Homo sapiens: one gene and its partner. The protein of the gene in region 2 purifies or fractionates together with the protein of the main gene of each other region. This does not show direct contact. Each region holds a gene or a part of one and is shown on either strand. Other genes may lie near its edges.

The links. The genes of interacting proteins can lie anywhere in the genome.
Region 1: the proteins of KLF3 (region 2) and CPVL purify together in Homo sapiens (affinity purification with mass spectrometry; 2 studies listed by BioGRID and IntAct, with this or other methods). This does not show direct contact.

Annotation. Positions count from the first base shown.
Region 1 is NC_000007.14:29,059,534-29,066,573, reverse strand, and holds part of CPVL (probable serine carboxypeptidase CPVL isoform b precursor), read left to right. Parts: intron 1-452; coding exon 453-551; intron 552-2,339; coding exon 2,340-2,513; intron 2,514-7,040. UniProt on the Homo sapiens protein: May be involved in the digestion of phagocytosed particles in the lysosome, participation in an inflammatory protease cascade, and trimming of peptides for antigen presentation.
Region 2 is NC_000004.12:38,695,176-38,702,034, reverse strand, and holds the end of KLF3 (Krueppel-like factor 3), read right to left. Parts: intron 4,954-6,859; coding exon 4,772-4,953; 3' UTR 518-4,771; downstream 1-517. UniProt on the Homo sapiens protein: Binds to the CACCC box of erythroid cell-expressed genes. May play a role in hematopoiesis.

The DNA.
Region 1 (7,040 bases), on a different chromosome or scaffold from region 2:
CTGCATGGCTCTATTCCTCTCATCCAATATGTCTTTACTCAAATGCCACCTTCTAAGTGAGGTCCTCTGTGACCTCCTCTCTACATTGTCCCATACACACATGCACACACATGACACTTCCTACTCCTCTTTAGTTTTCTCCTTGTCATTCCCTAACATACTCAAGAGTTTATCACTGTCTACCATATGATATAATTTACTTAGAAATGCTTGTTGTCCCCCACCAGAATAAAAGCTCCATGGGGGAGGACCATTGGTCTGTTTTGTTGATGGCCATTTCTCCAGTGCCATGACAGTGTCTAGCACAGAGAATATGCACAATAAGTGGGCGCTGGATGAAACAATAAAGGAATGAAAAAGTTGTTGAATAAATGAAATGACAAATGTCTGTACATTTTTATCCACACTGATGTTTTCTTTCTTTCTTTCTTTCTCCCTCTCTCCCAACCTAGATACTGGATAAACTACTAGATGGCGACTTAACAAGTGATCCTTCTTACTTCCAGAATGTTACAGGATGTAGTAATTACTATAACTTTTTGCGGTGCACGGTAATGACATTTTAAAAACCATAATAATGTTTGCTTAAAACTTTTGGCAAAACCGAACTTCCTTTGATTTGGGAAATATTATAGATGACTTTATACTAGACCAACATGTCCAAACTGTACCGCGTGATGTGGTCTACTAACCCATAGAATCTTTTCCTCATCAGTGTTGTATACGTTATAATCTGACCACTGAGAATGTGTGATATTTCAGATAACTCAAAACAACTTCTGATGAACATGATTTCCCCCAAGTAGAGCTTGTTATAGAGGCACTTTTGTGAAGGACACAGGCTGGGATTGGAGTTCTGGGTCTCAGGTCCCAGAGCTTCAAGTCTGTTTACGAGTCTCTTGAAAATGCCCACATTCTTTGTTCTGTACTTAAGACGCTTGGATAATCAAAACTGCCAAAGCCTTAATGAAAATATTTGCTTTGTCTTACTTTTAAGATGTTTAATGCATTTAGTATGGCCCTCACTTCAAGCCTTCTGGAATATTTCTCAAAGTATTCAAGTAGTTTGTTTCATAAAAGTAGGCCAAAGTTGATATCTTTTGTGTAGAATTAGTCAAACAGAAGGAGCCAAAGTAGGTGTTTGAATTTGTATAATCTTTGTCTAATGCTTATGACAATGCATTCTGTTTTTAAAATTGCCTGATTTATGAACTAGTTTGTAAATAAAGTATAACGTTAGTTTCAGTGGAATTCGCCAATGCTGCAGTTTTGGATTTAGATTCTACTAAGAGAAAAACATGTGGTAGACAAGACAGAAACAAAATTTGTGATGATACCTTTTTTTCTTTACAACAATATATTCACAGTTAGTAAAAATTGTTGATGAAGCACAAAGTTGTCAAACTCAAACTTTAACAGTTTTTTTAATCCTTGTGTAACTGTTTTTTTTTTAAAGCATTTACTCCTTTCTTTCAGTATAATGATTATTACAGAGACTTTATTGCAGTTTTTTTTTTAATAAGCTTCATGGACAACTTTTCTTCTGTCTTGTGTCCTTCATAAAGTATCATCTCTTTTCACATTTGACATATTTTCCCCTTTATTATAGTCAATCCAATTTTGTGTGTGTGTGCGGTTTTTTTTATTTTTTAATTTTATTATTATTATACTTTAAGTTTTAGGGTACATGTGCACAACGTGCAGGTTTGTTACATATGTATACACATGGACACAGGATGGGGAACATCACACACCGGGGACTGTTGTGGGGTGGGGGTAGGGGGGAGGGATAGCATTAGGAGATATACCTGATGCTAAATGACGAGTTAATAAGTGCAGCACACCAACATGGCACATGTATACATGTGTGTGGTTTTAATAAACAGCAGAACACAGAAAAGAAATTCTTAGCTTTAAATCCAGCACACCACCAACCTGGCCCTTGTGATCCATTTGACCTTCTTTCCAAAGAGCCACCAACAAGGAGTGAATTGATTTTGATAATCTCATCTCTTTTGTTTTCTCTCTCTTTGCCTCTAGTGGGGTTGCTAATGGGAGTCACAGATTGCAAAAGATTAGTTTCTGCAAAGGAAAATCCTGTATTTGCAAATTGGGTATTTTAAGAGTATTTTAAGGGTATTTCAGATTTCTAATTAGTAAAAAGATTCCACCTAAATTATCTCAAAACCTCCGAGTTAAAATTTCAAGAATGGCGACAAGTTAATAGTCCCGTCACGTTTCTCCATGTTGTATGTTATGAGAAATTCACAGCTTTTCCCAACATACTGTTCCTGCCACCAATCATGTTCCCTATGTCTTTCCAATGCCCCTTCTGCCAGGAACCTGAGGATCAGCTTTACTATGTGAAATTTTTGTCACTCCCAGAGGTGAGACAAGCCATCCACGTGGGGAATCAGACTTTTAATGATGGAACTATAGTTGAAAAGTACTTGCGAGAAGATACAGTACAGTCAGTTAAGCCATGGTTAACTGAAATCATGAATAATTATAAGGTAAGAGAGCTACTTCAGTTACTATTTTAGGAACTTTCAGATTACCCAGAGCAGAAGTGATTTGTAATTTGAGTCCTGCCTTTTTTTTTTTTTTAACTTTTATGATGTGTCATTAGCATAAATAACAGCCCCTTTCTTTGTTTGATTCCAATTCAAAGTTTTATATTGTTCCTTTTAATTTAACCACTTTTGCCGTTGTGGTGACTTATACCTGTAATCCCAGTGCTTTGGGAGCCTGAGGCGGGTGGATCACCTGAGGTCAAGATTTTGAGACCAGCCTGGCCAACATGGTGAAACCTTCTCTCTACTAAAAAATACAAAAACTAGCTGGACATGGTGGCGGGTGCCTGTAATCCCAGCTACTTGGGAGGTTGAGGCGTGAGAATCACTTGAACCCGGGAGGCAGAGGTTGCAGTGAGCCAAGATCGCAACATTGCACTCCAGCCTGGGCAACAGAGCAAAAACTCTGTCTCAAAAAAATAAAAATAAAATAAAATAATTTAACCACTTTCCCCTGATTATTCCTTAAAATGAAATTCCCTTTGGCACACACCACTTCTCATCCTTTCTTGAGAAAGGAAGAGTTGCAGAGCCAAAAAGATGACTGGCCGTGTGTAAGAGCCAGATTTCTCTTATGTGTTGCTTTGTTACATGAATCCCAATGACGTCAGGGATAAATGAAATCAACTGGTTATTCTGAAAATGCATTTTGCCTAATGGTTGTATTCATTCACTTTACCCAATCACAGTGTTTTGAGTCTCTCCTTAGGGTGTGAGGTTGAAATGATGAATGAGAAAGGGTCCCTGTTTGGAAGTAGGTCAAGTCAAGCCATTGTGCTGTCTGGTTGAAATGCTCTGCCTTTGCTGCCAGTGGAGGTGCCAGTGGAGAGTGAGGTCACAGAAAAGGAGCCCTGGAGGTTCAGGCAAAGAAGACATGGGCCCTGGAACTCCCACTGGGAAGGAGGACACCAAGAGCAAATGACATGGGGAAAGTCAGCCTGTGTATTATTTCTTTCCTGGTACTACGCTCTCAGCTCCTCCTCTGGTCCTCCAGTGCTGTTAGCCTTTGCCCAAGGGATCGTCTCTAGGGCAACTCCGAAGGATGCCTGTACTGATGACTGGGGAGACCACCACTGAGTGATCCACTTCCTCCCTATATCCTGTTTTGAATGAACAAAAAACAGGGCAGTCGGCAGCCCATAGGATTTTTGTATGAATTAGAATAAAGGCATCCTCTCCTCAAGATACTTTATTTCGATCTTTCAGAAATTGTCCTGATATACTGCCTTAGTTAAAACCAGACTCTTTACTGCCATTTGCTGGCATGCTGAATATTCATTTCTACAATGTGTATATTAGGAATGGTGTGTCTTAGGATTGTTCAGTGCACAATCTGCAATACTATCCAGGCAGTCCCTGGCCAATGCACCCTAACTAGACTGTGGTTTAGAATATGCCAGACCTAGGAGGCCCATTTCTGGGTCCTGCTTCTAGTACAGTGTTGGACACGTAACCATTGTTGAAAATAGTTTAAGACCAATTATATGCCAAGTCTACAAACCCATTATAAACCTGCAAAACTTGATGAAATACTTACTTTCTTGGAAAGAAAGAGTCTAACTAGGTCAGGCCAGCATTTCAGCCATCCTTGTGTTTGGTTTTCTTGGGGACATGTAGTGGCCCTTAGTGCTTGCTGCTTCAAGACTTCTCAGAGGACCTCCAGAAGGCACTGCTGTTTGTCCTCTCCTCTGAGCTCTCAGAACGCGTTGTCTTTACCCCCATAGGTGTACATGGCACACTCTAACGTGCAGACTCTCAGTCTGACACCCATACCACCACCAGCCTGGAGCAGATGTCAGGAATGAATGAATGATTAGTGCTGTATCAAAAATATATCTATAAACCTGTCCATAATCCATTAGGTGCTTATTATCCACAAATTTATTAAACCAAAAAGAGGTTAGCGTTCATGTCTTAAAGATGATGTTCTGTAATGTGATGTTAAGGAATGGAACGAGTGAATTTTTTTGAGAGGAGAGCAGATAAGTTTGATATGTGTTATTTGTGCCCTTGGGAGATATATTTTCTCACTGTACACACTTTTTTTTTTTTTTTTTGAGATAGAGTTTTGCTCTTGTTGCCCAGCTGTAGTGCAATGGTGCGACTGGCTCACTGCAACCTCCACCTCCTGGGTTCAAGCAATTCTCCTGCCTCAGCCTCTCAAGTAGCTGGGATTATAGGCATGTGCCACCATGCCCAGCTAATTTTGTATTTTTAATAGAGATGAGTTTTCTCCGTGTTGGTCAGATTGGTCTCAAACTTCTGACCTCAGGTGATCCGCCCACCTCGGCCTCCCAAAGTGCTAGGATTGCAGGCATGAACCACCGCACCTGGCCTCACTGTACAAATTTAACTAGAATATGATTCCTTTCTCAGCCATGTGAGGGTAAGGTGGGACAAACAGCTTACCTGATGACATAAACTCTCCTTATGTTTTGACTGATAAAGGAGAATATATTGATTAGAGGTGATCCTGCATTTTGATATTTAAACTTCTCTGTCCCTCTTGCCCATGTATCCTAAACTTACCACTATGAATTCCAATAAAATCAAAATCCAGTATTTTCTAAACTTTTCTTTTCTTTTTTGAGACAGAGTTTCACTCTGTTGCTCAGGCTGGAATGCAGTGGCACGATCTCGGCTCACTGCAACCTCCACATCCCGGGTTCAAGTGATTCTCCTGCCTCAGCCTCCTGAGTAGCTGAGATTACAGGCACATGCCACCATGCCTGGCTAATTTTTTTTCCGTATTTTTAGTAGAGACAGGGTTTCACCATGTTGCCCAGGCTGATTTCAAACTCCTGACCTCAGGTGATCCACCCGCCTCGGCCTCCCAAAGTGCTGGGATTACAGGTGTGAGCCACCGTGTCTGGCATAAACTTTTCAACTCTGAATCGGTTGCCAGAAAAAGAAAAGAGTTTAGTGGTATAGATAAACCATATTTCCATAAAGAAACAGAACAAAATATGCCACCAAAAAGTGGCTGCTGCTAAAACAGACAGCATGTTCACTCACGCAGCTGGCAAAGCGCTTGGGATAGTGATTATCTTTGGCTTGTCTGTTAATGATGTTGAACCTCAGTGTTCAGAACGGGAATCAGAACAACCTAGGTTGGCTTAAAACGTTAGTACCATTAAAGTCATATTTATGTAAGACTCGGTACTAATTTGTCATAGAAAATAGCATGCCTGTTTCTATTCATAGGAACTAGAGGTCTTTTTCCAGTACTGGGTTCATTTTGGCCAATGTGGAGCATCTCTGATGGTTGAAGGAAGACCTTCCTGGGTTTCTGGAATTACGTTTTCATGTAGTTTCTGTATAAAAATTAGCTTCTCTGTAAACTACGTTAGTTTCTATGTAAGCTACGTGAAAACATAATCCTTTTCTTACAGTGATATACAGGAGATGCATACTCAAAAGTCATTTTCCTTTCAGTAATTTCAGATGTTTGGGTGGTAAATTGAAATATCATATTGGCAGTTTCAAAAATAACTAGAAAGAGAAACAATCTGTTGGGCTATTTGAATTCTTTATGACTGAATGAAGTCAAAACATGATCAGGACTTTTAGGAGTTAGCTGGTTAATAGAGTATGGTGGTTATGAACATGTTCTTAAGTTGCATATCTTGAGTTTGAGCTCTGGTTACACCAGTCACTGGCTATGCTCCTTTGGGAGAGGAAACTTAAACTCTCTGCGCTTTGGCTTCCTTGTCTATAAAACAGGAATAAAAACAGTATTTATGTGTGAGTTTCTGTGAGGTTTAAATGAGATTATATATGTAAACACACTTAGAAGAGTGCCTGATGGTTAGAAGGTGCTTATTTATATATATATAAGCTATTACCAAAAATGTTCAACAAATTTTGTGAAAGTCTTTAAGATCTTGCTACATTCAAAAGTTATACAAGAAACCCTGGAAAACACAAAAATAAAAAAGAATGGACAGGCTTCCAGTTTCCATTCCAGTGTGTAAGAAGCTTAGAAGTCTCCACTCCATTGTAACAACAGTAAAAAGCCAAACAAACTGAAATATAATCAAGAACTCTTTTTAGATTTGTTGAAACTGAGGTCACAGGGCAAATTGCTGCCCTCCAAAATTAGAGAGAGAGATGAATATAGGGAGTCAAAACTTAACAGGAGCAAACCTGTAAGTAGAACCCTCCATGGAAACAAATGGTGAGGAAGGGAAACCTGAACAGTAATTGGTAAATTACTAGAGGCTCCATAGGGACAAGTCTGAGAGTTTAAAACACCATGGGTGGGGAGAGGACTCAGCCAAAGGTCACTTGTAAATGACCTTTATTATGTTGAGGGACTTTTCTTGTATACCCAGACTGTTGAGTGTTTTTATCAAGAAAGGATGTTGGATTTTGTTGAATACTTTTTGTGTCAATTGAGATGATCATGTGGTTTTGTCTTTCAGTCTGTGATGTGTCACTTTGATTAACGTACCTATGTTAAACCAG
Region 2 (6,859 bases):
GATCTAACAAGCTAGCCTCAGTTTCAATTACATTGCAGGGATGCAGAGGGAAGAGGAGAGGTAATTACATTTTGCCTTAAACAAAAGAACTCTAAATCCTTGGCTGGGTGCAGTGGCTCATGCCTGTAATACCAGCACTTTCTGAGGCCAAGGCGGGTGGATCACTTGAGGTCGGGAGTTTGAGACCAGCCTGGCCAACACGGTGAAAACCCATCTCTACTAAAATTACAAAAATTAGCTGGGCACAGTGGCGTGCACCTGTAGTCCCGCCTACTCAAGAGGCTGAGGCAGGAGAATCGCTTGAACCCAAGAGGCAGAGGTTGCAGTGAGATCACAACATTGCACTCCAGGCTGGGCAACACAGCGAGACTGTCTCAAAAAACAAAAACAAAAACAAAAACAAAAACAAAACAAAACAAAACTCAACTCTAAATCCCTATCGGAAACTACTTCTTCTTCATGTGATGCTGGAGAATGCAGTGTCCATGAACATGGTTACTAAAGGCTTGAAAAATAATTACTTTTATCCAGAGTTATTTACTTTAATGCGTTATTGTTCTGTTCCTCGTTCCCCACTCCCCAACATGAGAGTCTTGATATTTTACTCTAAAAGTTTAAAGTATTATACACATGCGTCTTTTAATACAAAATGCTGCAAGTTCTTTTTGGAAGCAGGCAGGGGTTCATAAATAACAAATACAAGAAGTATTTCAAGAATGAACTAGGTGAGTTTGTAGATTTTTGCTGGATTGTCTGCAGTTTTATGATTTCAGCCTAGGAGACTTCCTGTTGGCTGTTTTCAGAAAACCAGGGACATAGCTTGAGGGCTGAGTTAATTCCGGTAGTTCATCTTCCAGTTAGATCTATTTTTCTGTCCCTCCATCAACAATAACTGCCCATCAGAGTAAGTAATGTTCTAAGCAAGGGTTCTTACATTGCTCTGTAAGTTTTGCTCTAGTGATCACTGCATATGAAGTAATCACATGATCACATTTAATATTCTGATGGTTTTATTAACAAGTATATAATATATATTGCATACTGTATATAGTATATGAGGACTGTACAGTACAAATTTATGTTCACAGTTTGACATGACAAAATGTCATTACTGAATTCCCATTGGACTACAGAGTAGAAACAGAGAAGGTACATTAAACATTCACATCTTTAGTAAGAAAGATTACCAAAATGTTTCAGTATCTGCAAGTATACTAATGCATGCTAAAAACCTTTACCCATTCAGTCTTATTAGCTTATAAAATATATTACACTTTATTAAAAATTTCTGCATAGTTTATACAAGTATTAAAGTACTGTAAATGTAATAATCCTGCTATATTTGCAGGTATGGTTTAAGAGATGCTAAGCAGAAAGATTATTTTGACCCTCTAACACTAAGTACATAACAGAAAAAAAAGTGCTAGTATTTGTAAAACAATATTGTTGTAGCCCTCGTTTAATGCATGTAAAGATGGCTTTGTAAATGTATTGTTTAGGTGAATTTGCGATCATTTAGCAATTGTTAACCTTGACCAAGAAGAGAATAAAGACAGCTCGGAGCAACTTCATGTATGACAGCAATTCCTTCAAGACAACTGTATATTTTCAAACCAAATTATTTTAAAACCTTAGATCTTTCAGATTGTCTTTACAACAATCTAATCAGGAATGATGCGCATATATACAGTATCAGCAAAATAGTCTTTCAAATTCCACATTAGTGCAATACTGATAGTGCAGATGGGTGTTTAATAAAATATACATATACATATATAGTTCCCCTGTAATTCTGTTCCAAGGCTCTTGAAACTTCTGTGTATTTAGCATCTCCCTAGTTGAATATAGCTATGCTGCTAACACATTCTCCAAACCAAGCAATTTAGAATGTTAATGCCCATTTATGATGTAGATTCACATAACTCTAAAATACGATGGATTCTGATTCTTCTGACTTCTCTAGGATGACACTTGGGTAACAACTGAAGAAACTCTATAACAAACAGAATTTACGTAATAGTAACTTCATGTTTACAAATCATTCTCATCAATTTAAAATATTGCGATTGAAATCACCATTGATAGTAACATGACACACATCATTAAAACATGTTCAAGGGCATCTAATCTTGTATTTGAGGTCTTCCACAATAACAGCTAAAAATGACTAAGAGGCTAAATTTCTCAACTATCATAGTAAAATACAAATATATATATAAGAAAAGTTTGGTAAGGGCCAATTGGTAATGAAAGCGTATTGACCAGCATGGGAATAGAGAATGGCCGCTCTGGGTTGCTTTTGTTCAGAGTTAAAACGGATCTTTGTTAAATGAACTGTTAACACAATCTAAGCAAGCTGAACAGTAATGTTAAGAGTCTTTGCAAGGTCTTGCTTCAAATCTTTTGAACAAAATTTAAATATGCCACAGCAAATGCATCAATTCCATGAGATGCCCATGAGGCTATTCACTGAACTCAGGCTCAAAGCTGATCCCAGATCAATCTGATCCTTTCTCGCCCTTTCCCCCACTTCTCTATGGATTGGAACACACATAAACTGGTTACCTCGGTCAAAACAAAAAGATTTTCCTTGCGTTCCATCTTGATTCTTGTGTGTTGTGAAAGAACCATCTCAAGAAATGAACACTTTGCCATGAATATGACTAAGCATTTACAATACAGACAATATCTACTTTTCAAAGAGCCATTTTATCACTCAATTCATGTCATAGTTGCAAAAAAGAAAAACTTCAGCTGAAAAAAAAATTATCTTTGCCTTTAGCTGAAAAACAAAACAAAACAAAAAAACAGCCCAATTAGGATGTTTTAGTATCCTAAAGAAGTTTTGCAGTGCTTTAAAAAAAGGAAAATCAAACCCAAGTGCCAAGATAACACATTTCTTTGCATTTCTTAACTACATTTCTTTACAGCTGGTTCACAGGGCGGATGAGTGGGACCTCTTAGCCTCTTAGGTGCACAGTCCCTACAACTTTTATTAACACAGTGCCATCAAAGCAAGCTCCCCACACAATTCACAGGCCTCCGGAATCACTCATTCACAGATGTTTTAAAAATGATCAAACAATGTATTCCTCCCAGTTAAAGTTGTGTTGGATCCTGAGTTGCGGCTGGGATGAATCTTCAGGATTTCATTCTTCTCTCTTCTCCTCCATTCTTGATGAAGGGGAATTTGGTTATATGCACCCACATTTAACTACTGTTGCTCACTTTCTTCAAATTCAGGACCAATGACATTTCTATGTATGAATTATTTTTATTGGCATTTAGACTATGGTGCTCAAAAGCCTGCTTTTGAATAACTTCCCCCAATAATGGTGCTATTTATCTTCAACATAAACACGAGCCATTATTTTCAGTTTGTTCTGACACTGAAATAGTGATAGGAAATTGCCAACTCTAACAGTAAACTTTTGGGAATTTTTGAGCTACATATATGAATCCCTGATCTGTGGTTTTCTATATTTTCTCATAAATTCCCAAAATAAAGGTATGTGTGCTTCACAACTAGTTATATTTACAAATAGTGTCACTCAGGTCTTAATTGAATCAATCCATTAAAGCATTAGCAGATGCTTTATGGTATGTGTCATGAATACAAATGACAGCCAATTTGGCACCTTAACAGCTCACACAGGAAGAGTTTCTGTATAAAAGCTATGTGATTAATTTGATAAGGGAATACAAGTACCACTCAACATTTCCCTGTTTACAAAAAAAGCTATAAGCAGATTGGGTAAAAGAAGAACCATCCATACTCTTACCCGAAAGATTTCTTACCATTACTGGGCAAATATTCCATGGAGTCCCTACTATCAATGTTTGATGATCTCATATTAAGGACATTGTAGGAATGGAGATAGTTGCATGGATAACCCCATCGGTATATGGCTTTGCAGCATGGTTCTACAAAGCTGAGTATGCACAGAGACTGAAGCTCTGGGAATGCTGCACACAGCTAACAAAATGTTGAAACCTCACTGACAACCCCTAGCCCAGGAGGAATTGCCTCTTCTGCTCCCCCTGCTAAATGGCCCTCTCCTCCGACTCCATGCTATGAAAACACAGCACCCTTCCCTTGAACTGCTACACATCACCCACCTAGATCGAAAGTTTGGGCTCATCTCCCATTGGTGGCAAAGACCTCCATATGAGCTGCAGGCACAAAGGAGGGCAAAGAACTCGATTCAGATGAAGTCTAAGATCCAGGTTGACAAGATTTGTGAAGAATGACGGAAGAGGTGACTGCACTAGCTTGAAATCTGGCTGTACTTCTAGCTAACCGGTGCAAGGGGCCACACTTGTTTTCACTGTCAAGCATAAAATATTATCACAGGGCAGAGGTAAGAATGTCTCTGGCAAGGACTAGCAGTCTGGATACTGTATTTCTAATACATTTACTCTGACATTCTTTTGAGGAATACATGGAGAACTGACAATTGGTTATGTTAGTTTACATGTTCCCTTGTTCTTATTACATTAAACGTATCTGTAAGAAGGGTTTGCTTAGCATCCCCAGAAAAAAAAAAAAAAGTGTTCACATTCTTTAGGTCTGACCCGTGGTAAGGAGAGGGAGGATTAGAGAACATCTACTACTGACCATATGGAAGTTTTGGATGATATAAATTCAGAGATTCAGACCAGCTGAATCAAATTAAAATGTACATGTAAAAAATGTGTTAGATAATGGGAGGCAGGACAGAGAGAGAGCCAGGTGAGTGGGGAGTCACGCTGAGGCAGGACACAGAGGCAATCAGACTAGCATGTGGCGTTTCCTATGGAGGGCAAGATGGTCAGAACGGGAGAAGCTGCGGTCACAGTCCGGGCACTGGAAAGGTTTGATTCCAGTATGTTTTCGGAAATGTCTTGTTAGTTCATCAGACCGAGCAAACTTCCATGTGCACCCTTCCCATGTACATTTGTAGGGTTTTTCTCCTGCAAAAGGAAAAAGAAAAGAGCTATTTTTTTTTTCTGTAAAGGTAGTAAAGATCTTTGAGTTAATGCTTGACAAATATTATTTCCAAGATATGTTCATACATTTGTTCTTCAATAACACAGTGCATTATAAACTACTGCAAGACAAGCAAGAAGAAAATGAACTAATACCGTAATGTTTCATTGGCTCTCTGCCAAAAAAACGGGAGGAGAATTTTAAGAGTTCTTAAAACACAGAGTCACTGAAATCCATTCTGAGGGACTACCAAATAGTGAATGAACACATGGTGATCTGTATTTGCACATCTCCCAAATCTTAAACCTGCTTGGGAGCTTAATTATATGCAGTGCTATTCATTTAATGAGATAATGAGAACTCCAAATTGAAAGTTTGTGGGATTTTCTTAAACTTTTCAATAGTTTTCCAAAAATATGAAGTCTCTAACAACTGAAGTATCTGTTAGGGATTAACATCTTATTTTCTTGTTTAGTCAATAACAATTAGGCCTAAGTATAATGCTTTAATTCAGGGGTACTAAAATATACGAATTCTTCCCCATCTGTCCTGAGCCAGGTTTTCACAACCCCCTCCTGTAGGATAAGGATCATTTACAGATGAGGAACAAAAGCTCCTTGTGAGAAAATGATGGGGAGAACCAGGATGAAGGGAGACCCTCACAAATAAAAAGGCTGTTATGGCAATCTTACCTTTTAAATTAGTCATAAGGGTCATGAGTATGACAAAATTAACTCCCATTTAACACCCTTTGTTCTCTAGAAGCCTTGAGGGATTACCATTCCTTGGCATTTGAATGAGATATGCAGGATTTCTATTATCTGCTTCCTGGTACAGAATACACACACAAAGAGGCGTTTTTTTTTTTTTTTTTTTTTTCCTACATCTAAACTGTCACCCAAATATTCAATGTCCTTTTAATTTTAGGCTGGAAGTGGGTAACATCCACCTCTTCGGTCCCACTAATGCCTCAAGGATGCCCTCAGTAATCATCGATTTGCACTGCTGTTTGGGCGTTGCTCTAGATACAAGGCTATCACCCTCAGCTCTCTCTGTGGGTGTTAGCTTCCTCTGCCTCCTCCCAGGATTCACTTAAAAACTTCACTTCCATTTTGCCACTTTCCTTCCCTTTTCTCTTCCAAACCTCAGATTCCTCTTTGTAAATTTTCTGAGTAAAAATGATTTGCAAGACTCAGAAAAGCAACCTACACTGCTAAGGAAAATGTACACAGATGCAAACTGCTGTCAAACTAGAATTCCACATCAAAGAGTTTGAGGTGAGATGAGCCTTACTGTACATACATCACCACTACTAATGGTCAATCAGGCTGTTAAAAGATGTCATTTTTAATATTTTTTAGAGACATGGCCTCCCTATGTTGCCCAGGCTGGACTTGAACTCCTGGGCTCAAACAATCCTCCTGCTTCCACCTCCCAAGGAGCTGGGACCACAGGTGCACGTCACTGCACCTGGCTGTTAAAACATTTTTGTATTATTTCCTTAAGATGTTTTACTACCAAAATGTTTGGCACTGAGACCAATTTCACATTTTTCTCGGCCATGTAATGACTTTTATATGATCTGGCTGCTCATGCTCTATATTCAGTATTGGGCGAGATGGAAGAAATCCTAGAACAAATATGGTAGGCAACGGCATAAGAGTTCCCTCAAGTTTAGAAGACAAATATTAACCACATTTCTTCACTTTTCTTTCCTTGAAGGACAGTCTTCTATTTGAATTGTTTGTGTTAAACTGTTGCATTAATTTGTGCTGCACAAAGACTGTTCGCTCTCATGAATTTACAATGCAGGTATGTGAAATAGCTCACAGGAAGGCCACATCCTTGACTGTGAAAGCACTTCCCCCATTCCAGCGGCGAAGGCTCCAA